Homo sapiens: one gene and its partner. The protein of the gene in region 1 interacts with the protein of each later gene in a pairwise test. Each region holds a gene or a part of one and is shown on either strand. Other genes may lie near its edges.

The links.
Region 2: the proteins of PBRM1 (region 1) and CHD7 interact in binary tests that used the Homo sapiens proteins (3 or more experiments, as listed by UniProt).

The regions. Positions count from the first base shown.
Region 1 is NC_000003.12:52,671,430-52,687,188, reverse strand, and holds the start of PBRM1 (protein polybromo-1), read left to right. Parts: upstream 1-1,275; 5' UTR 1,276-1,440; intron 1,441-1,589; exon of another isoform or gene 1,590-1,753; intron 1,754-2,274; exon of another isoform or gene 2,275-5,097; intron 5,098-5,368; exon of another isoform or gene 5,369-5,446; coding exon of another isoform or gene 5,447-5,494; intron 5,495-6,262; exon of another isoform or gene 6,263-6,326; coding exon of another isoform or gene 6,327-6,329; intron 6,330-7,462; coding exon of another isoform or gene 7,463-7,477; coding exon 7,478-7,615; intron 7,616-8,591; coding exon 8,592-8,689; intron 8,690-15,759. Other genes in the region: GNL3 (guanine nucleotide-binding protein-like 3), read right to left, coding at 362-420, 1,084-1,096. UniProt on the Homo sapiens protein: Involved in transcriptional activation and repression of select genes by chromatin remodeling (alteration of DNA-nucleosome topology). Required for the stability of the SWI/SNF chromatin remodeling complex SWI/SNF-B (PBAF).
Region 2 is NC_000008.11:60,849,346-60,856,739, forward strand, and holds part of CHD7 (chromodomain-helicase-DNA-binding protein 7), read left to right. Parts: intron 1-1,147; coding exon 1,148-1,277; intron 1,278-1,686; coding exon 1,687-1,759; intron 1,760-1,916; coding exon 1,917-1,974; intron 1,975-2,673; coding exon 2,674-2,902; intron 2,903-3,152; coding exon 3,153-3,361; intron 3,362-3,483; coding exon 3,484-4,155; intron 4,156-5,017; coding exon 5,018-5,178; intron 5,179-6,629; coding exon 6,630-6,857; intron 6,858-7,099; coding exon 7,100-7,394. UniProt on the Homo sapiens protein: ATP-dependent chromatin-remodeling factor, slides nucleosomes along DNA; nucleosome sliding requires ATP. Probable transcription regulator. May be involved in the in 45S precursor rRNA production.

The DNA of each region.
Region 1 (15,759 bases):
TTCAAGTGAGAAACCAATCTGGCTGCAATTTAGTTATGCCTATAAAATGTCCTAGGAAAATGGAGCTTTAATTGGAATCTTACAAAGTAATGCATATGTAAGTATAAAACAGCAAGAAATTGTAACTAGAAGGCTCTCTATGCAGAGATTAACATGCTGAACAAATTTAGAGACTTATCACCAAATCACTGCACTTTCTCACAGCTGCACTCCTGATGCCTAAGAGCTTGTGCCCATGGTCAGTCTATCCAATGCCATTTCCCAAAACCAAATCACATTAACCCAGACTTTCCCGCAAAGGAACAGGGCAAAATCAGTTTAGCAATGTGTTTGGTACAGCTCTCTCAAGCACTACACTTACCTTTTTTTGGATTTTATACCGCTTATGGCAGGTCATGCGTTTACTTGCTTTCTTTAACTCTACAAAGAAACACATCACAAATCTGTTAACCCAAATGATTAGTTCTGGGTTAACGCACTATGGAGTTATATCCTTTTCTTGTGTTATTGGCTACCAAACCTAACGTTAAGTCTAATGCGAAATGCCTAATGCAAACATACGTGCTACTTTCAAATCCCAGAGAATTAAATTCAGTAGATCCAGAATGGAGTCAAAATTCCCTGCACTTACCCTCACAATATTAGAATGGGATCATACACAACAGCGTATGAGACACAAAACGACAACCACTTCGTGTCAAACAGCACGAATCATAAGGCAGGAGAGGAACACTGAGTCTGGGAGGCGATTCTCAGCTCTCACCTGGGCCAGTCTGCACGTGGCCACGGAAAGAAAATATTGGGCCTCAAACCTGGCTCAGACGCTGCTTCCTTACGAAAATCTAGCCTAGTCTTCCCCACCCTCTGCCCGGCTTCGTTCCGCAGAATGAGCCCGCGCGGTTAACATGATCGCCGTAGGGACTTCCAACTCTCGGTTCTACCAGGAAATAGGGCCAAGGCCTACGCGTAGGCTCCCACCCCCATACCAGCAGAGACAAAGCCGTAGCCGTAGAAGAGCGTCGTGGTGGCTGCAGCAACTTCCAGACGTGGGTCCCTCCACGCCCGCCTCCCGACCCCACTTACTAGGCCTTTTCATATTGGCTGTAGAAGGAAGCACAAACACATCAACCTGCCTCCGCTGGCGCCACGTGTGAACTGAAGCCACTGACGAGCGTCACGCACTTACGCTGCCGCCGTAAAGTGCGTCACCGCCTCTCTGCGTGCGCGGGCACGCAGTGTCGCGCGGAGCAGGGATCGCTTGGCGGCCGCGGGACTGGTTTTGCGGCGGCACCGGGAGGGGTAAGGGAGGTGAGGGCGGCGGGTGCCGAAGCGACGGCAGCGGCCGCGGCCGGAGGAGCAATAGCAGCAGCCGTGGCGGCCACGGGGCGGGGCGCGGCGGTCGGTGACCGCGGCCGGGGCTGCAGGCGGCGGAGCGGCTGGGTAAGGCCGGGCCCAGGGCGGGTGGGGCCGCTCCCCCTTGGTCAGCTGCCGGGCCTTTGTGTGGGCCCGGGCGGGCGGGAGCCGCGGCGGAAGCCCCGCCCCGGCCGTGGGGACGCGCGGGTCGGGCCGGGCGCGCGGGGTTGGGCGGGGCGCGGCGGCTGGCCTCCGGATGGGCCCAGTAGCCTTGTCGCACCTGCCGGCAGGGACAAAGGCGCACTACGGGTCGGAAACTCCCCGCGCTCCTCTTTCCCGCTCGTCGCGGGGCAGCTTCAAAGCTGTCAACGTTTCCCTCAGTCCCCAATACCAGTGACAGGTCGGGAAAGTCCTTCATTTCCTCCGTTGCTCAGGGCCTCTTTTTTTTGTTGTGGTTTCTTGACGGTTCGACACAAACTCTTAGTGATTTTCTTTCCGTATTTTTTCCGGGTATTTTAATCAATGGGACTTGTATTTATAGTAGAGGCCAGATATTTCAGCTTCTCAACACCACAAAGAATCCGGGATTTTGGGAACTGTGTATATTTCTTGGTTTGGGGAAGCACAGTTTTGTTATTATAATAAGTTTTAATTTAAAGGGGAAGAAAGAGTTGCAAAAATATAGAAAAAGCCCTGAAAAATAAGTACACGGTATAGTGGATATAGAAATTCTTACAATAATTATAGAAGCGTATGTTGGGGTGAATTGTTTTAATTAACTTACTTTCCAACACAGGATTCTTGACAAATAATTTTAGGTATTATTTTTTTCTCCATTTGGCTATGTGCTTTTCCCCAAAAAGTGCAAATTGGACTCATGCACATAAAAGAGTAGCATAATTTTTGCTTTATTACTTACAGGTCGCCCATATTTGATTTTGAGCTCCAAAATGGAAGATTGGAAAATATGTTTTGAAGAGGTGTTTCAAATTAAAACAATAAAGAGTTTATGTGTGGATGAATGGAAGGGCCTTGACCGCTTTCTTTGGCTTTGGGAATGTACAAAATACCTCAAATGTTAATATCCTACCAAAATTCCCAAGATAAGTAAATTGTGGTGTATCTATATGATAGATTACTATCAAGTCATCAAACATCATGAGGAAGAATGTTGACTTGGAAGAACCTTCACTAAAACACAGGCTGTAGAATAATATATGTGGTTTGTTAACATTTTGGTAAAAAATAATAGGTAACTAAGGCATAAATACCAAAAACCGAATGACAACGTTAAGAGTGGTTTTTTTCTTGGAAGTAGGTTTATAGGTGTTTTTTTTCCTTTGAGTCCTGTTTTCCAAGATTTTGTTTTAAACATGTATTGTATTGCTAAATATTACTAGAAATATAGGAGAGGGCTAAAGTTCATAAACGGTCGAAATACACTGTTTGTCTATAGTAAGTCGATATTCTCCCAGTTGCACATTATTAAGTATTCTTAACTGTCCACTATAAATTATTGATTGTTAGACTTTTGAACTTGTAACTGTAATCAAGGCCATTTTAAAACTTGGCATTGAACTCTGGAATCTGTCTTTCCTCTTCATGGAAAGACAAAATTGCTGAAGGGATGCTTACAGGCATTTTTTTTTTTTTTTTTTTTTTTTTTTTGAGACAAGGTCTGACTTTGTTGCCCAGGCTGGAGTTCAGTAAAGTGATCATGGCTCACTGAAGCCTTGTGCTCCTAGGCTCAAGCAGTCCTCTCACCTCAGCATCCCAAGTAGCTGGGATTACTGATGTGCAGCACCACACCCAGCTAATTTTAATTTTTGTAGAGAAAAGATCAATCTATGTTATCCAGTCTGGTCTTGAACTCTCTGCCTCAAGCGGTCATCCTGCCTCAGCCTCTCCAAGTGCTGGGACTACAGATATGAGCCCCTGTGCCTGGCTGAGGACTTTTAAACTATACAAATAAACTTTTTTTTTTGAAGGTCTCAAGTGCACTTTTTTTTTGTTTTTTTTGGAGACAGTCTTACTCTGTCCCCCAGCCTGGAGTGCAGTGGCGCAATCCCAGCTCACTGCAATCTCTGCCTCTCTGGTTCAAGCAATTCTCGTGCCTCACCCTCTCGAGTGCCTGGGATTACAGGTGCATGCCACCACCTTGCCTAGATAATTTTTTGTATTTTTGATAGAGACGGGGTTTCACCGTGTTGGCCAGGCTGGTCTTGAACTCCTGACCTCAGGTGATCTGCCCACCTCAGCCTCCTAAATTGCTGGGATTACAGGCATGAGCCACTGTGCCTGGCCCTAAGTGCACTTTTAATACATTTATTAAAAGATAAACTGAGCACATAACCTATACCAAATACTATCCTGTAAGACAGGTCTACAAAAATGAATATGCTGTTCCTGTGCCTGGGGAACATGCAGAAGTGATTTCACTTTATGTTGTTTTTTTTTTTTTCTTGAGACGGTCTCGCTCTGTCACCCAGACTGGAGTGCAGTGGTATGATCTCGGCTTGCTGCAACCTCTGCCTCCTGGGTTCAAGCAATTCTCATGCTTCAGCCTCCCAAGTAACTGGGTTTACAGGCATGCACTGCCTCAGCCAGCTAATTTTTTTTTTTATTATTTTTTTGAGACAGAGTCTTGCTCTGACGTCCAGGGTGGAGTGCAGTGGTGCCATCTCGGCTCACTGCAACCTCCGCCTCCCGGGTTCAAGCGATTCTCCTGCCTCAGTCTCCCAAGTAGCTGGGATTACAGGTGCGTGCCACCAAGCCCAGCCAATTTTTTTTGTATTTTTAGTGGAGACGGGGTTTCACCGTGTTAGCCAGGATGGTCTTGATCTCCTGACCTCAGGTGATCCATCCGCCTTAGCCTCCCAAAGCGCTGGGATTACAGACATGAGCCACCGCACCCAGCTAAATTTTTGTATTTTTCTTTAGTAGAGACAGGGTTTCACCACGTTGGCCAGTCTGGTCTCGAACTCCAAGTGATGCACTGGCCTCGGCCTTCCAAAGTGCTGGGATTACAGGCATGACCCACCACTCCCGGCATTACGTTCTTATTTTAGAGATGAAACAGATCTGAGAGGTTACATCAACTAATCAGACAACATCAAGCTGATAATCAGAGGTGGAAGACTTAGGACTCCTATTCTGGTCTTAGGAGCAAAGGTCCTGTTGTTTCTCCCACCTTATAACATTGCCCTTCTTGTCAGACTTTCAAAATACATTTTAAAATGTGTCCCATGGATAAGAAAATACTTGAAAATTATCCTTAAGTTGAAACTTTTTCTTATCTTACCAAAGTAAATTAATGATTCAAGGATATTGGGATATTGTGTCATCCGAACGACATACACATGCTGATAATGTATTTTTTTGTCATTTGATTTTCAGTGGATTATTTATAAAAGTAATTTTGAACTCCTGCCAAAATGGTTGGCCCTTTTTTTTTTTTTTTTAACCTTGTCAAATTTTTATATGGTGTCTCCAATGCAGATAGGACTTTTGGAAATAAATGTTCTTTCTCTGAATTTTTTTTTTGTGGGGGAGGGTGTTTTCCAGACCTTTTGCTCACATGAGCCATTCTTGGTTTGTTCCAGCTTGCCAACACTTGGTGTCACATGTGAGCCTCCCACATGTATTCACTCTCCATTCCAGCTCTGTGATTGAACTCTGCTCTTATTGACTAGGGGGCAGTTGGGCAGGCATGCCTCATTCCTGGAATTGACAGTCATTCCTAATGTGAGTAAAGGGGAACCTCAATGAGACATCTTTAAACATATGAAAGCATTTGGTTTTAAAATGGAAGAACTGTCAGGTACTGTTAGTGCCTGAGCCTTTGCAGCAGTTTGTTTGATAGGTACAAGAGAACTGATATGCCTGTTTTCTCCAGTTCTCTTTATCTTTCTTTAGCAGTTCTATTTGAATGTTTTCTATCTATTCGTACTCATTTTTACTCCTTCTGACCCTTCTTTTCTATTTCCCCCTTCTCTGCCTTGTTCTTCTTTTTCAGTTTTGAATATACTAACACTGAATCAGCACTTCTAAAGCCCTTCCTTCTCCCACTGGCTTCACTTGGCTTTCAGACATAATGAGGAGACTGGCTTTTCGAGGCGCTGGTTGTGCTCTGGTAAAGCTGGTAAATTACTGATTATCTACACCCTTTCCCTTTTCTGTCCTTCCTTGACTTTTTCCTTCCACCTTTCTTAAATTTTTGTTATCCTTTCCACAAAGATTCCCTCCTTATGTTCATCAAATTCACTTGTGTCTTTGTCATAGATTGTTTAAAAGGGATTGGTCCTTAATTTATCTTAATGAATTGAGTCCTGTTGATCAGCTTTTTATAAAATGAACAAAAATCAGCAAAACTTGGCTAAGTTTTGGCTAAGCCTTTTGACGATTTTAACTACTTTTAGCCAACTTCAAACTAATAATACTGTATAACAAACCGAAGCCTAGAGTAAGGAACATCATCGTGGTAGATTTTGTTTTAAACACCATGTGGACTTTAGTTTGGAAAAAGAGATCTGAGACTTCTCTTTTTCCTTAATTGCTCACCAGGATTTTCAAATGTGATTCTTTTGCTCCTTCTTTCTGTTTCCTGGAGATCCCCAACCTTTCTTTCCATACTGCTGGCAACCAGTGTTCTCCTGTTCTAATCATTCAGCTGCTGGTGTCGTAGTGTCCTGAAATTCAGTGTTTCCATGTGCCTTACAATTATGAGGTACTCTAGTTCTATGAGGTTCCTCATAATTGTAAGGCACATGGAAAAGCAGATGAGGTGCTGACTCAAGAAGTGAATACCTTGGGGCCTCTGAACCCCAGGCCTGCCTGACTACCTCAGGGGCTGAAGGATCAATACCTTCAGTGTTGATGAGTGAAACTGGGATCTTTTTTTTTCTTTTAGCTTTAGAAAAAGGCCTTTGACGGGCGGATCACGAGGTCAAGAGATTGGGACCATCCTAGCCAACATGGTGAAACCCCGTCTCTACTAAAAATACAAAAATTAGCTGGGTGTGATGGCACACGCCTTAGTCCCAGATACTCTGGAGGCTGAGGCAGGAGAATCGCTTGAAACTGGGAGGTGGAGGGAGGTTGCAGTGAGCAGAGATCGTGCCACTGTACTCCAGCCTGGTGACAGAGCGAGACTCCACCTAAAAAAGAAAGAAAGAAAGAAAGAAAAAGGCCTTTCAAATCACAATATACTATTTGATAGTATTGTTAGATTGTATTGCAATATAAGCATTGCAGGACTTTCTTGGGTATATACTATCTGTAGCAGATCATTCAGTGGTTGCATTTCTTGTGTTGTAAATAGAGTTATAGTTAAAATTGTTATAGTTAAATAGAGTACGTGTTATAGTTAGAGTATGTCATATCACTAAAAGGTGATTAGTTTGAATTAACAGAAGAGTTTCAAAGGATAGTTTGTACCTCTGTCTAGGTATAGCAAGTCTCATTAAGTGTTTTCCAGGGATATGTCTTGTGGATCCTGTTTTAATGAATGGAGAACATTCATTTTCAGGGTTTTAATTTTAGAGTACATCTAAAGTGCTAGAAGGTTAATTGTCCTCTGTCCCCTTACCTTTTTGCACTACTCATTTGTCCTGGGCTCTGCTTCTTGCTCTTTTCCACATGATGGCCCACCTAGCAAATGATCATAATTGTAAGGCACATAGAGAAGCAGATGAGGTGCTGACTCCAGAGGTGGATACCTTGGGGCCTCTGTACCCCAGGCCTGCCTGACTGCCTCATGGGCTGAAGGCTTAATACCTTCAGCACACTAATGTACTGCTACATATAGGTTGGGAAACTCTAGGCCAAATTTGGAGCCAGAAGTTGAGTCATTCAAGATTGCTGATATACAAATGAATATGCTTTTGTTGAATTTGTCCCATCAAAATTGGAAGTATAGCATTCTGGTAAGTGAAAGACTAAAACAAGGAAGTCCAGGGCTTAAAAAAAAAAAAAAACTTATAGCTAGTTAAACTACAACACGTTAAAATATCCTCCTAAGTGAGCCAGGAGTTTGGTAGCAGGTGTCCAGCTGAAGACTTGGTGACAGAGTCTATTTAAATGTAAGAACATGGCTGATTATTTCTTATAGAAGAAGTTGGATTCCATGGGTTCCAAGAGAAGAAGAGCTACCTCCCCTTCCAGCAGTGTCAGCGGGGACTTTGATGATGGGCACCATTCTGTGTCAACACCAGGCCCAAGCAGGAAAAGGAGGAGACTTTCCAATCTTCCAACTGTAGATCCTGTGAGTAACTTGGATTACATGGTTTCTGCCTGCTCTTCCCACAATTCCCCTATCTTCCCTTTAATGGTAAAATTGTTACGATGCAAGGCATCTCCACTTTTTTAAGATTCTCTTGATTAATAGTCTTTTCTTTTATGAACATTATGTATTCAGCTAAGTCTTAGAGTAATAGTGTGATCTTATGAATAATTTCAGTATGTTACATCATATATTAATTCAGCAAATAACTGTGTGACTATCATGTGACAAGCACTGTTCTCATGGTTGGGATATAGCCATGTGGAAACAAGCCCATTTTTCACATGGAACTTAGATTCCAGGCGGGGGAAGTAGAATGTAAACAAGTAAACGAATAAAGAATAATGTATCCTTAGCTAGTAATAAGTGCTAAGAAGAAAATTTTGGGTGATTTGGGCTGTTTTGGCCTGAATTCGCTGGAAGAGAGTTCCAGACAGAACCAGTGCAGAGGGGTTGGGTCAGGGATGAGTTTTGTGTGTCTTGGTTACAGAGCAGGGGATGGTCAGGAAGGAGAAGGAAACTGGCAAGCTCCACCCATTCAGAGTATGTAGGGCCCACACAAGCAATGTTTGGAGTTTAGATTTTATTCTCTGTGAAGTGATAAACCCTTCTGTCAGATGGCTTTAAGCAAGAGAGTGATAAACTGATTTAGTTTCAAAGAAGAAAACCCTTCAATTGGATGACTTTAAGCAAGAAAGTGATGAACTGATATAGTTTAGAAGACAAAATCACCAGGAGCATAAATCTGATGAAAGATACCAAAAAGTTAGTCAACTCAGTTGTTTGAAAGGAGACATATTGTCAGCATATTTCAGACTTTAGCATGTTTGGTAATATTGAGAGTCATCATTTTTCTTCTCTACTTGCCTTTTATTGAAGAGTAGAAAATAATTCTTATGTCTACACTGGCTTTCTGTTCACTTTTTTAGTGATTTTTTTCTCCTTTGCTAATGTGTAGATTGCCGTGTGCCATGAACTCTATAATACCATCCGAGACTATAAGGATGAACAGGGCAGACTTCTCTGTGAGCTCTTCATTAGGGCACCAAAGCGAAGGTGAGTTCGAAGCACATCAGTACAGTTGCGGGGGATTTGGTCCAGAGTCCATGTGTATTAAAGTGTTTGGAAATTGAGCTTTTTGTTGGCAGGAATGGCTTAAATGATACTGGGGTCCAATTTTAGTCTTTAGTCTTTAGTAATCAAGCTGTAGTGAAGCTTTTTTTAAATTAAAAATCTGTTGAGCCAGGCACAGTAACATGCACCTATAATCCCAGCTACTTGATTTTTTGAGCCAGGCACAGGAGCATGCACTTGTAATCCCAGCTACATGGGAGACTAAGGCAAGAGAATTGCTTGATCCAAGGAGTATGACACCAGCCTGGGCAACATAATGAGACCCCGTCTCTTAAAAACAAAAACAAAAAAAATGACCTATGCGGAAAGATCTCTTGAGGCCAAGAATTTGAGACCAGCCTGGGCAACATAGTGAGACCCATCTCTACAAAAAATTTTTTGAAAAATTAGCCAGGTGTGGTGGTGCTCACCTATAGACCCAGCTACTAGGGAGGCTGGGGTGGTAGGATTGTTTGAGCCTGGGAATTTGAGGCTGCAGTAAGCCATGAGTGTCACTGCACTCCAACCTGGGTGATGGAGCAAGAGCTTGCCTAAAAATAAATATTTAAAAAAGAGTACTGACCAGGCACAGTGGCTCACGCCTGTAATCCCACCACTTTGGGAGGTCTATAGGTGGGCAAATCACCTGAGGCCAGGAGTTCGAGACCAGCCTGGCCAACATGGCAAAACCCTGTCTCTACTAAAAAATACAAAAATTAGCCAGGTGCAAGGCTGGGCGCAATGGCTCATTCCTGTAATCCTAGCACTTTGGGAGGCGAAGGCGGGTGGATCAGCTGAGGTCAGCAGTTTGAGACCAGCCTGGCCAACGTGGTGAAACCCCGTCTCTACTAAAAATACAAAAATTAGCCAGGCTTGGTGGTGGGCGCCTGTAATCCCAGCTACTTGGGAGACTGAGGCAGGAGAATCACTTGAACCCGGGAGGTGGAGGTTGCAGTGAGCCGAGATCGTACCGTTGCACTCCAGCCTTGGTGACAAGAGTGAAACTCCATCTCAAAAAAAAAAAAAAAAAAAAAGCCGAGCATGGTGGTGGGGCGCCTGTAATCCCAGCTACTTGGGAGGCTGAGGCAGGAGAATTGCTTGAACCTGGGAGGCAGAGGTTGCAGTGAGCTGAGATCCCGCCACTGTATTCCAGCCTGGGTGATAGAGCCATTCTGTAGGTTGCCTTTTCATTTTGTACGGTGTCCTTAGATGTACAAAAGGTTTTAATTTTCATGAAGTTTATGTTGTCTTTTTCTCTTGTTGCCTGTGCCTTTGGTGTCATATCCATGAAATTAATGCCAAATCCAATATCATGAAGCTTTTCCCCTATGTTTTTGTATTAATCAGGGTTCTCTTGGACAGGACTAGGCTGCAAATTTTCCAAACTTTTATGCTCTGCTTCCCTTATAAAACTGAATGCCTTAAACAGTACCCAACTCACCTCTTGAATGCTTTGCTGCTTAGAAGTTTCTTCTGCCAGATACCCTAAATCATCTTTCTCAAGTTCAAACTTCCACAGATCTCTAGAGCAGGGGCGAAATGCCCCAGTCTCTTTGCTAAAACATAACAAAAGTCACCTTTACTCCAATTCCCAGCAAGTTCCTCATCTCCATCTGAGACCACCTCAGCCTGGACCTTATTGTCCGTATTGTTATCAGGCTTTTGGTCAAAGCCATTCAAGTCTCTAGGAAGTTCCAAACTCCCACATTTTCCTGTCTTCTTCTGAGCCCTCCAAACTGTTGCATCCTCTGCCTGTTATCCAGTTCCAAAGTCGCTTCCACATTTTCGGGTATCTTTTCAGCAGCGCCCAACTCTACTGGTATCAATTTACTGTATCAGTTGGTTTTCACACTGCTGATAAAGACATACCCGAGACTGGGAAGAAAAAGAGGTTTAACTGAACTTACAGTTCCATATGGCTGGGGAGGCCTCAGAATCATGGTGGGAGGTGAAAGGCACTTCTTACATCAGTGGCAAGAGAAAAATAAGCAAGAAGCAAAAGTGGGAACCCCTAATAAACCCATCAGATCTCATGCAACTTAATCACTATCACGAGAATAGCACGGGAAAGACTGGCCTCCATGATTCAGTTACCTCCCTCTGGGTCCCTCCCACAACATGTGGGAATTCTAGGAGATAACAATTCAAGCTGAGATTTGAATGGGGATACAGCCAAACTGTATTGGTTTTCCTCTAAGAGTTTTATAGTTTTAGCTCTTACATTTAGGCCTTTGATCCATTTTGAATTTTTATAAGTAGTGTTTAGGTAAGGATCCCGCTTCATTCATTATTTTTTTTTTTTTTTTTTTTTTTTTTTTTTTTTTTTTTGAGACGGAGTCTCGCTCTGTCGCCCAGGCTGGAGTGCAGTGGCGGGATCTCGGCTCACTGCAAGCTCCGCCTCCCGGGTTCACGCCATTCTCCCGCCTCAGCCTCCCAAGTAGCTGGGACTACAGGCGCCCGCCACTACGCCCGGCTAATTTTTTGTATTTTTAGTAGAGACGGGGTTTCACCATTTTAGCCGGGATGGTCTCGATCTCCTGACCTCGTGATCCGCCCGCCTCGGCCTCCCAAAGTGCTGGGATTACAGGCGTGAGCCACCGCGCCCGGCCCCCGCTTCATTCTTTATATGTGTGTATCCAGTTTTCCCGGTATCGTTTGTTGAAAAGACTGTGCTTTTCTCATTGAATGGTTTTGGCGCCTTTGTCAAAATTTGCTTGACCGTGTATGTGAGGGTCGTTTCTAGGCTCCATTCTATTCCATTGGTCCCTGTGTCTGTTTTTATACCAGTAGCACACATTTTGATTACTGTGAACAACATATTCAGTGGCAAAATACTTAAAGCTTTTCCTCTAAGATCACGAACAAGACAGAGATGCCCACTTTCACCACTTCAACACCTTGTTCACTGTGGAATAAATCCCACCTGGTTATGGTATATAATCCTTTTAATATCCTGCTGAATTCAGTTTGCTAATATTTTATTGAGAAATTTTGCATCAGTATTCATAAGGGATATTGATCAGTAGTTTTCTTGTAGTATCTTTGTCTGGCTTTGGTATCAGAGTAATGCTAGCTTCATAGAATAAGTTAGGACGTGACCTCGCCTCTTCAATTTTTTGGAAAAGTTTCATAAGGCTTGGTGTGTTAGTTCTTGAAATGTCTGGTTAGAATTCATCAGTGAAGCTATCAGTCTAGGGATTTTCTTTGTGGGAGATTTTTTATTACTGATTCAGTCTCCTTACTAGTTATAGGTTTACTCAGGCTTTGTATGTCTTTAGTAGGTTGTGTGTTTCTAGGAAATTATCCATTTCTTCTAGTTTATCTAATTTGTTGGCATACATGTTTTCCTAGAACTCTCATAATCCTTTTTATTTTTGTGGCATTGGTTGTAATGTCTCCTCTTTATGATTTTAGTTATTTGCATCTCTTTTCTCCCTTACTTCTTCCCTCCCTCCCTCCTCCTTTCTGTCTTTTTTTGAGACAGGATCTTGCTTTGGCACCCAGGCTGGAGTGCAGTGGCAATCACAGTTCAGTGCAGACTCAACCTCCCGGACTCAAGCAGTCCTCTCACCTGATGCTACCATACCTGGCTAATATATATGTTATATATACGTGTGTATGTATATAGTAAACACATAAAATATATATATTGTATATATAACGTATTTTTTATTTATATATGTAAAAATATGCTGGATTCTTACCTAACGCTACATACATATTAAAAAATAACGTATGTAATGTTAGGTAAGGAGATATATGTGTGTGTGTGTGTGTATATATATATATATATATATATTTTTTTTTTTTTTTTTGGTAGAGACAGGGTTTCCCTGTGTTGCCCAGGCTGGTCTCAAACTCCTGGGCTCAAGTGATCCTCCTACCTTGGCCTCCCGAAGTGCTAGGATCACAAGTGTGAGCCACCACACCCAGCCTCTCTCTCTCTTTTTTTTTTTTTTTTTTGAGATGGAGTTTCGCACCAGGCTGGAGTGCAGTGGTGCGATCTCGATTGTGGCTCACCACAACCTCCGTTTCCCAGGTTCAAGCGATTCTCCTGCCCCAGCTTCCCGAGTAGCTGGGATTACAGGCATGGGCCACCACGCCCAGCTAATTTTGTATTTTTAGTAGAGACAGGGTTTCTCTATGTTGGTCAGGCTGGTCTCAAACTCCCGACCTTAGGTGATCCGCCTACCTTGGCCTTCCAAAGTGCTGGCATTACAGGCGTGAGCCACCGTGCTCAGCTCTTTCTTTCTTAGTTAATCTAGCTAAGTGTTTACCAATTTTGTTGATCTTTTAAAAAAACCAACTGTTTAATTTTTAAAATTGTTTTTCTATTCTCTAATTTCGTTTATCTGCATTCTATATATATATCTATATATATATTTTTTTTTTGAGACAGTGTCTTGCTCTGTTGCCCAGGCTGGAGTGCAGTGGCGTGATCATGGCTTATTGCAGCCTCTGCCTTCCAGGTTCAAGTGATTCTTATGCTTCAGCCTCCCAAGTAGCTGGGATTACAGGCGTGTGCCACCATGCCTGGCTAATTTTTGTATTTTTAGTAGAGATAGGGTTTCACTTTGTTGCCCAGGCTGGTCTTAAACTCTTGACCTCAAGTGATCTGTCCACCTCATCCTCCCAAAGTGCTGGGATTATAGGCATGAACTACTGCACTGGCCCTCCTTTCTATTTATTATCTACTGCTAGCTTTGGGTTTAGTTTGCTCTTCTTTTCTCTAATTCCTTGAGAAAGAAGCTTTTTTTTTTTTTTTTTTTTTGAGATGGAGTCCCACTCTGTTGCCCAGGCTGGAGTGCAGTGGCACAGTCTTGGCTCACTGCAACTTCCACCTCCTGGGTTCAAGCAATTGTCCTGCCTCAGCCTCCCGAGTAGCTGGGATTACAGGCATACACCACTATGCCTGGCTAATTTTTTTTGTACTTTTAGTAGAGACGGAGTTTTGCCATATTGGCCAGGCAGGTCTCGAACTCCTGACCTCAGGTGATCCACCCGCCTCAGCCTCCCAAAGTGCTGGGATTACAGGCATGAGCCACTGCACCTGGCCGAGAGTGAAGCATGTTTTTTAAATTATTTAATTTTTTTGTTTCATTTTGTTTTTTAACACCTGGTTCACATAGGCAGTATAAAAATTAATAGTTCTTATGGCTGGGCGCGGTGGCTCATGCCTGTAATCCCATCACTTTGGGAGGCTGAGGCGGGTGGATCACTTGAGGTCAGGAGTTCGAGACCAGCCTGGCCAACATAGTGAAACCCTGTCTCTACTAAAAATGCAAAAATTAGCCGGGCGTGGTGGTGGGTGCCTGTAATCCCAGCCACTTGGGAGGCTGAGGTGGGAGAATTGCTTGAACCCGGGAGGCGGAGGTTGCAGTGAGCTGAGATTGCACCATTGCACTCCAGCCTGGACAATAAGAGCAAAACTCCGTCTCAAAAAAATTAAAAATTAATAAAAAAAATTAATAGCTCTTAAGACTGTATTGAAGTTGTCACAGTGATAGTTAAAAGGGATCAGTTTTTTAAATTACACAGAGAGGCATCTTGCACACAACTTCCTATGGAAGGTATGTTCCCCTAACTAGAACATCTTTCCTCTCTTGCTGTCAAAATATAATCACTATTCTCTTCAAAACTCTGGCAATTGGCCAGGCGTGGTGGCTCATGCCTGTAATCCCAACACTTTGGGAGGCCGAGACAGGTGGATCACCTGAGTGCAGGAGTTCGAGACCAGCCTGACCAACATGGAGAAAGCCCATCTCTACTAAAAATACAAAATTAGCCGGGCGTGGTGGTGTGCACCTATAATCTCAGCTACTCGGGAGGCTGAGGCAGGAGAATCACTTGAACCCAGGAGGCAGAGGTTGCAGTGTGCGGAGATAACGCTGTTGCACTCCAGCCTGGGCAACAAGAGTGAAACTCTGACTCAAAAAAAAAAAAAAAAAAAAGCCAAAAAAAAACCTCTGGAAATTGAAGTTATTTGTTCTGAAAACGTATATGAGTGTGTTAGTCAGAAAACTGGTGCCCAAATATTTCCACATTCTAATCCCTGAAACCTGTGAATATATTGTGTTACATGGCAGAGGGGAATTAAGTTTGCTAATCAGCTGATCTTGAATTGGAGCGGTTATCCTGGATTATCCATGTGGGTCCAGTGTAATCACAAGGGTCCTTAAATGGGGAAGAGGGAGACAAGTTCAGTCAGAGATTTGAAGATGCTGTAGTGCTGGCTTTGAAGATGGAGGAAGGAGACTACAAGCCAAGGGATGCAGGTGAGCTCTAGAAGCTGAAAAAGGCAAGGAAACCTTTTTCGCTAGATGCTCCGTACTAGAACATCCAGACGGCATGCAGCCCTGCTAATACCTTGATTTTAGACCAGTGAGACCCATTTTGGACTTCTGACCTCTAGAACTAATATAATAAATGGGTTTTGTTTTAAGCCCTGAAGTTTGTGGTAATTTGTTACAGCAGCTGTAGAAAGCTGTGAGTTAACTAAAGATTTAGATTCATTCATGATTGTTGATGCTACAGTGGGTAGTTACCAAGCTCTAAGTTGAACTGGAGGCAAATTTCTCACCTCAACGAGCAAGCCACTGAGAATGCAGTGTCATCATCCTGAATTAGGAGAGCCCTGTAAATTAGCAAATTAGCCATGGCCAAAAAGGAAGCATTGTTTTTAAAATGAGGTAACTGTCTCCATATTTGAGTTGGTTTATCAATAATAGTCTTCTGAAAGTTGTCATTTAATTAGCATAAAGTAGTAAAAGCATGTATTTATTGTTTGCCACATTCTAGACACAATACCAAGCATTTTCCCAATCATATCTTATTTAAAATTCTGAGTTATCACAGTTTATAGGTGAGAACTTGCACAAGTTCTTGTAACTACTAAAAGATAACTGGTGTTCAGACTAAAGTCGTTCTGACTCCAAAGCCTGTGCTCTTAACCATTATGTGGTATAGAGTAGCAGCATCACACTGAAGTATACAAAACAACTTTTATAGAAGAT
Region 2 (7,394 bases), on another chromosome or scaffold:
TGAGCATTTGAGAAGAAAACATTTCTTTCTTGGCTGTAAATAAAACCCAAACCATATTTGTTTTAATAATAGCCAAGTTGTACTATAGCTCTCCCTAAACTTTGCTTCCAGCGCGGCTTCCCTTGCTAACTCTGCCAACCAGTGTCAAAGTGGACGGTGGGCTTAACCTCTGCTATTAATCTGTACAAGTGCCTCCTGGGCTTTGTTCCAAGCAATATTTCACAAATGTCAGTGCTGAGAACTCGCGGCTCCCCTGAGTGGGATGCAGCCTTGTTAACTTTGAAAGGCTGGGGATGCAGAACTGGCATGATATATACAGTGAGCGATTCCTGATTATAATCCCAATTCTCTGGAGGTCGCGGAGGTATTCTCAGCAGCCCAGCCTGACTAAAGGGGAGAATGATGGCTTATAAAACCTTTCATGATTACAGTTTGGCTTGCGGCTCTACAGCAGTTAGGAGCGGTGTGTTGTAGTACACATCCTAATTGAATTGTGCTGTTCTGCCTATGTACTGCAGCCACATTTTGTGAGCTCAGCCTCAAAATCATTTTCCCGCAGTGCACTGTTGGGATCTGCCATTTTCCATCTAGTCAACTTGGGCAGTCAAAAAGCAAATTGCAGTTTGAAAACCATAGAGGGAACCGTGTCATCTTACTGACATGCATCATCCTAAACCTAATAAGACAGGTTCGCTGGCCTTATGTATATGGGGATTTTTCAGCCAGCCATGCGAGTTCCTGCAGGACTGATGCTATTCACAGAGTGGATGGGGGTGGACTCAGTGCACCCCTGCAGAGGTCATAAAGGAACATTGCGAATCCTTCTAAATGTCAAGCAAAATTAGATCTGGGGAAAAATAGGGTCAGAAATCCTCCCAGGCATCTTGCAGTTATTCTGAACCTGTTTTTCTATTAGTGTTTGTGGTAATTCTGATAATATCCCTGAAGTGTAACTTGGCTCCCAGTAGCTTCCCTAGAAGGAGCGTTCCATAGAATGATCTACTAAAACAAGGTCCACTTGGATTCAACAGAGATGCTAACCTTGACTGAAAAACAAACTTGTGTTGTGGCAGTGCTGTGATTTTGCCAGTGATGGGGCCTTTCTTTGTTTCTGTGTGTTTTCTGTGCACGGATGGGCACGGCACAGGCTATGAGAAGTACAACTCCATGCGAGCTGACCCCGCGCTGTGCTTTCTGGAACGAGTCGGTATGCCTGATGCCAAGGCCATAGCTGCCGAGCAAAGAGGAACAGACATGCTAGCAGATGGTGGTGACGGGTAAGAAGGACATTTTAAAATTTGAATAAACTTTATGTCAGTTTCACATCTATTGGCAGGGTTCAGTTCTTACCCTGCAGTACACACTGTATTGTGTCTGATTTGAAGTTCAGGAGATGTTTACCAGTCTACTCTATTTGTATGTCGTAATGACTGTTTAAACAATATACATTATCTTGATAATCTGAAACTTGTTTTTCTTTTCCAAATGTCATTTCCCGCAATCTCCCCAGACCCCCTCCACCACACTGCCATGGCTGCATGTTTTAAATACTGATAGAGTTGCTTTTGATGTCAAACCCATAATTAAAAGTAGCACTGGGCAGATTATTACTCTTTCCTACCCACCCCCCTTCCTTCTTTTGCTTATCAGTATGATTCAAATAATTTTTGTGTTTGTTTTACATAGGGGAGAATTTGATAGAGAAGATGAAGACCCAGAATATAAACCAACCAGAACACCGTTCAAAGATGAAATAGATGTATGAACTTGAGTATATTGGCTTTTATAGCTCCATTAAAATATTATATGCCCACATAAGACTTGTTAAACTTTATAGATAATGACCTTTTCTTTAAAAGACAAAGAAAAATGAGACCCCAAATTAAAGTAATTCTGTTTCTTGCTTTGCTTTCAAGGAATTTGCAAATTCTCCTTCAGAGGATAAGGAAGAATCCATGGAAATACATGCCACAGGTAAGGTCCCAGAAAAGCTTGTGTAGCCGAGCAGACGTGCACTGAGCAGTCATTGTTCACGTGGTAGGGACTGTCCTGCTTCATGACAGCAGTGTCTTAACACCTTATTTCTTCTACACTGACCTGTTTTGTGAATCATTTTAATTCTTGTTAATGGCTGTGTTTTCATGACATTGAATTTCTTAGATAGGATAACTATTTCTTTGATGATAATTAGCTGATTTATATTTTACACTAATTAGTGAAAAATTTTAAGCATCTAAACTATAGCTCTTGGGAATAGAGCATAGAGCATTTGCTAAGTATTCACCTAAAATATTTTCAGTTTATTTAGAATATTGACCTTTTACCGAATATAAAATCATTACACAACAATTATGCAGTTATTTTTTATACTCAAGATGATTATTGCACATACATTAGAGGAGAGTACCTTATAAGAAGTTTATGCTGTAAAGTGTGTTTCTTTATGTAGGACTAATAAATAATGTTTTCATCCCCTCTAAGGAGGTAAAAAAGAAATAAGTGTATATATTCCAAGTGAATGTTATTACTTATTTATATTTTAAAAATGAGGGCACTGAGATGCCCTTTCCCACACTGTCATTTGAATCTTAATGAGTCATCCTGTTTTGTTGGAATACTCTGTATTGCAAGATTGCAGCTACACATTTCAAAAATGTTTTTCCACTTCCCCAGGCAAGCACAGTGAGAGTAATGCTGAGTTAGGCCAACTTTACTGGCCTAACACTTCAACCCTGACTACACGTCTGCGCCGGCTCATTACTGCCTATCAGCGCAGCTATAAAAGGCAACAGATGAGGCAAGAGGCCCTAATGAAGACTGACCGGCGCAGACGGCGGCCTCGAGAGGAAGTGAGAGCTCTGGAAGCGGAAAGGGAAGCTATTATATCTGAGAAGCGGCAAAAGTGAGTTTCTTCAAGGTTTCCACTCAGCTCCCGGTACATGCCCCTCTGCCCTGCTCCTGTAGACCCACAAGAGACAGGACTCATATCAAAGGTAGTGACCACCAAAGAAAGGCTCGCTCCAACAAAGCAGTCTGTTTCCCCACCCCCAAATAACTACCATGTATAAAGTCTGGGGGGAAGAAGAAAAGAAACAGTAAATATTAAGTCTTTTCCTGAAGTATGATGCAAGCTAATATAATCTTTCTAACAGGTGGACAAGAAGAGAAGAGGCTGATTTTTACCGTGTGGTATCCACCTTTGGGGTTATTTTTGACCCTGTGAAACAGCAATTTGACTGGAACCAATTTAGAGCCTTTGCCAGGCTTGACAAAAAATCTGATGAGAGTTTGGAGAAATACTTCAGTTGTTTTGTGGCCATGTGTAGGCGAGTATGTCGAATGCCCGTCAAGCCAGATGATGGTAGGTACATTTAGCAACAAAGTTCTATACAAAAAGACGAGTAAAGTGAAAAATAAGAAAGTGTACAATGTAGAATGCCCTTGAATTCTCCCCAAGTAAATATGAGCCCTTCTGTGTTACAGAACCGCCCGACCTCTCCTCCATAATTGAGCCGATCACAGAGGAGCGAGCCTCTCGAACTCTGTACCGCATTGAGCTGCTACGGAAGATCCGCGAGCAGGTTCTCCATCACCCCCAGCTGGGAGAGAGGCTTAAGCTCTGCCAGCCAAGCTTGGATCTGCCAGAGTGGTGGGAGTGTGGACGGCATGACCGAGACTTGCTGGTTGGTGCTGCTAAACACGGGGTCAGTCGGACGGATTATCACATCCTCAATGACCCTGAGTTATCCTTCTTGGATGCACATAAAAACTTTGCTCAAAACAGAGGGGCAGGTAATACATCTTCCTTGAACCCACTGGCAGTTGGATTTGTCCAGACTCCTCCAGTCATCTCATCTGCTCATATTCAAGATGAGAGGGTACTGGAACAAGCCGAAGGCAAAGTGGAGGAGCCTGAAAACCCAGCTGCCAAGGAGAAATGTGAGGGCAAAGAAGAGGAAGAAGAAACCGATGGCAGCGGGAAGGAGAGCAAGCAGGAATGTGAGGCAGAGGCCAGCTCTGTGAAAAATGAACTGAAAGGTGTTGAGGTCGGCGCAGACACTGGGTCCAAATCTATTTCAGAGAAAGGTTCCGAAGAGGATGAAGAGGAAAAGCTGGAGGATGACGATAAGTCGGAAGAGTCTTCCCAGCCCGAAGGTAAGGCCTTACCACTGGCCCCTCTCCTGACCCTGCAGCAGCTGGTTGTGAGATGCGTTGCTTTCTGGCAGCACGGCACCTGCTCTTTTTCACGAGTACTTAGTGTACATTTTCTTCTGTGAAGGGATAATTTCAAGTTATGCTTATATCTGTGTTTTGCTCTCGCACCTTATAGCACCTAACCATGGTATTTTGAAGAACATAAACTCTAAGAAGGGTTGCATGGACACATTAGCAATTTCTGGTTTAAGGATGGAAGTTAACTTGTAGTGAGTGACAGTGTATTAAGAATTCTATGTGATTTTAATTTTGACAAATGTGAGGGAAGGTGGTCATTCACTGAGTAAATATTGTTAATCATTTTGAAACAACTGGTGCTTGTTATGTTTTGATTCAGAAGTAAAGAGTGGGAATAGAATCTAAAAATAACCAATTTTTTAAGTCACAGTACGGTTGCTGAAACTGGCCCAGAATAAAAATAGAGCACGTACTGTGCTGTAGCTGGAACCTTCAACTTTTGACAGAAGGTCAGCCCTTTTTTCTGTGTGGAAGAACATAGACTCTTGAGTCAATGACTTGGTTGGCTATCAGCCTCTTGTAAGGTTTACTTGCACGGTGCTAGGTGGCTAGTGACTAACCTCTCTAAGCCTCTGTGTCATCATCTGCAAGATGGAAATAACACCATCTATGTTAAAGGGCTGTTGTAAGCTTTAGACAACAGTGCCCAATACCATTCTAGCCATGTAGTAGGTACTCAATAAAATGGAGCTGATTAGTATTCACATTTTTAATCATGTCCTTTCTAAACTTCAGTTTCCCTGATACTGTGGTTGTGAGTAATGCACATTAACTCATTTCTCAGCAGGAGCTGTCTCTAGAGGGAAGAATTTTGATGAAGAAAGCAATGCTTCCATGAGCACTGCTAGAGATGAAACCCGAGATGGATTCTACATGGAGGACGGAGATCCTTCAGTAGCTCAGCTCCTTCATGAAAGAACATTTGCCTTCTCGTTTTGGCCTAAGGTTGGCAGGTTTTTGTTGCTGTTGTTTTGCTGACCAAAAAGGATTAGGGTAGAGGAAATCTTTCTAGCTTGATTTTTCAAGTAATTTTAAGGTAAACTTTTGACACAGTATATGAAGACTATAGATTTTTCTTATACTTTTAAAGAATGATCTGAAAAAGCCCAAAGAAAAAAATTGTAGAACACTTTTCTAATAGGATGGGAAATGTGATGTGAAAGAAAGATAATAAGAAATAGAAGTGTGTATATGGATTGATCTTTGGCTCCATGTGGCTTTTAGGTTACTTACCCCCGTTGTCTAGCATAATGTATGGATTATCACTGTGTTTTAAAATTTTTTTGTGAAATAAAGCCTTCAGATTTAAGACAACTTTATAGTTTTGGAAACCTACCAGCTTCTTGACTTGGAAGAGGGTGTACTGTTGACCCATTTGCTTTTGACGCATTATGAGATAATTCCAAATGTAGTTATCTGTAACCAAAAGCAAAATGGAAATTACTTTTTTGGCTAAATAGTATAATTTTATAATAATTCCCTGTGTAATTTAGGTCTGTTTTTCAGGGTGAGGAAATAATCATCCTAATCACCATAACAGGGCTGTCTGGTTTAAAACAACACAAAAAATGAGCTTCAGTCAGCCTACCCCCCAGGCTCGTCTTTCCCAGTATTATTGTGTAAGAAACAAGGTGAAAATTTTGACCAAAGAATGTACTGTCAAAGACATTTTGTTTCCTCTCTCTATCCCTTTAGTTCCCCTGTTATGCTAACCTCCTTTATTGAGTGTAGGAGGGAGTTTCCCAGATCAGTCAAAGGTTATAGTAGCAGGCACTTTTAATCTATGGAAACTCAGTCTAAAGCTGTAATTAGAAATTTTTAATGTACACGCTTCAATGAAATTTGAAGTGATAATAGGTAGGGAATGCAAATTGACATTCATTAGGTGTTCCTAGGTTGGTGCCCACTTCATAATGCTGAACTTTATTAATAGTGACGCTAATGATGTCCTACTTCCTGGGACTGCAATCCAGCCTGTAGATCTGAAGGGCCAGGGCGGCAAGAAGCTAATGCAGGGTTTCCATTGTCATCTACTGACATCCACCAGCAGAGCTCTATGGAGCTTGTACAAGAGTTACTTTTTAAATATGAAGATATTTTGAAGGTGGTGATTATGTAGTACATTTTTCTGTTTTATGTAGTTCAGTGTTCGTAATTAAAAATAGCATGTTTTCTGTGTTGAAGCCACCTAGGACCTTCTGCCAGAGCAATGCCATTATAGGAGATTTTGTTTATTTACTTTCTTGTTTGATTTCTTGCCTTGTTTTCTTTTACTTTTTGTCCTCCAGTTGACTTTTAAACATTTTATGCTCTTTTGCATCTTGATGGATGTATTTATCTAGTAATTTTAACCAGGGCTTTGTTAAAATTTCTTGTGACTTTTCTTCTCCCTCCAGGATAGAGTAATGATAAACCGCTTAGACAACATCTGTGAAGCAGTGTTGAAAGGCAAATGGCCAGTAAATAGGCGCCAGATGTTTGATTTCCAAGGCCTCATCCCAGGTTACACACCCACCACAGTGGACAGCCCCTTGCAGAAGAGGAGCTTTGCTGAGCTCTCCATGGTCGGCCAAGCCAGCATTAGTGGGAGTGAGGACATCACTACGTCTCCTCAGTTGTCAAAGGTGAATTAGAATGGCTTGTTTCTGCAGCTTAAAAGGGAGCTCTCTAAGCCTTAACTGAGTTTGCGAGCTTATATTTCACTGGCCTTGCTTAGAAATAAGATAGCTGCTGTTTCCTCAGCTCTGTGCACCAGTCATGAATGCTTAATTCCTTAAGCTTCTTGTTCCTTATTTCTAAAAGCCAGCCCATATAGCAGTACTGTTTTGGCTCACTGCAACTCTGTTCTGTTGGAATTTTTCAATAGGAAGATGCCCTCAACCTCTCTGTCCCTCGCCAGCGGAGGAGGAGGAGGAGAAAAATCGAAATTGAGGCCGAAAGAGCTGCCAAGAGGCGAAATCTCATGGAGATGGTTGCCCAGCTTCGAGAGTCTCAGGTGGTCTCAGAAAATGGACAAGAAAAAGTTGTAGATTTATCAAAGGCCTCAAGAGAGGCAACAAGCTCTACCTCAAATTTTTCATCTCTTTCTTCAAAGTTTATCTTGCCTAATGTCTCAACACCAGTGTCTGATGCCTTTAAGACTCAAATGGAACTGCTCCAAG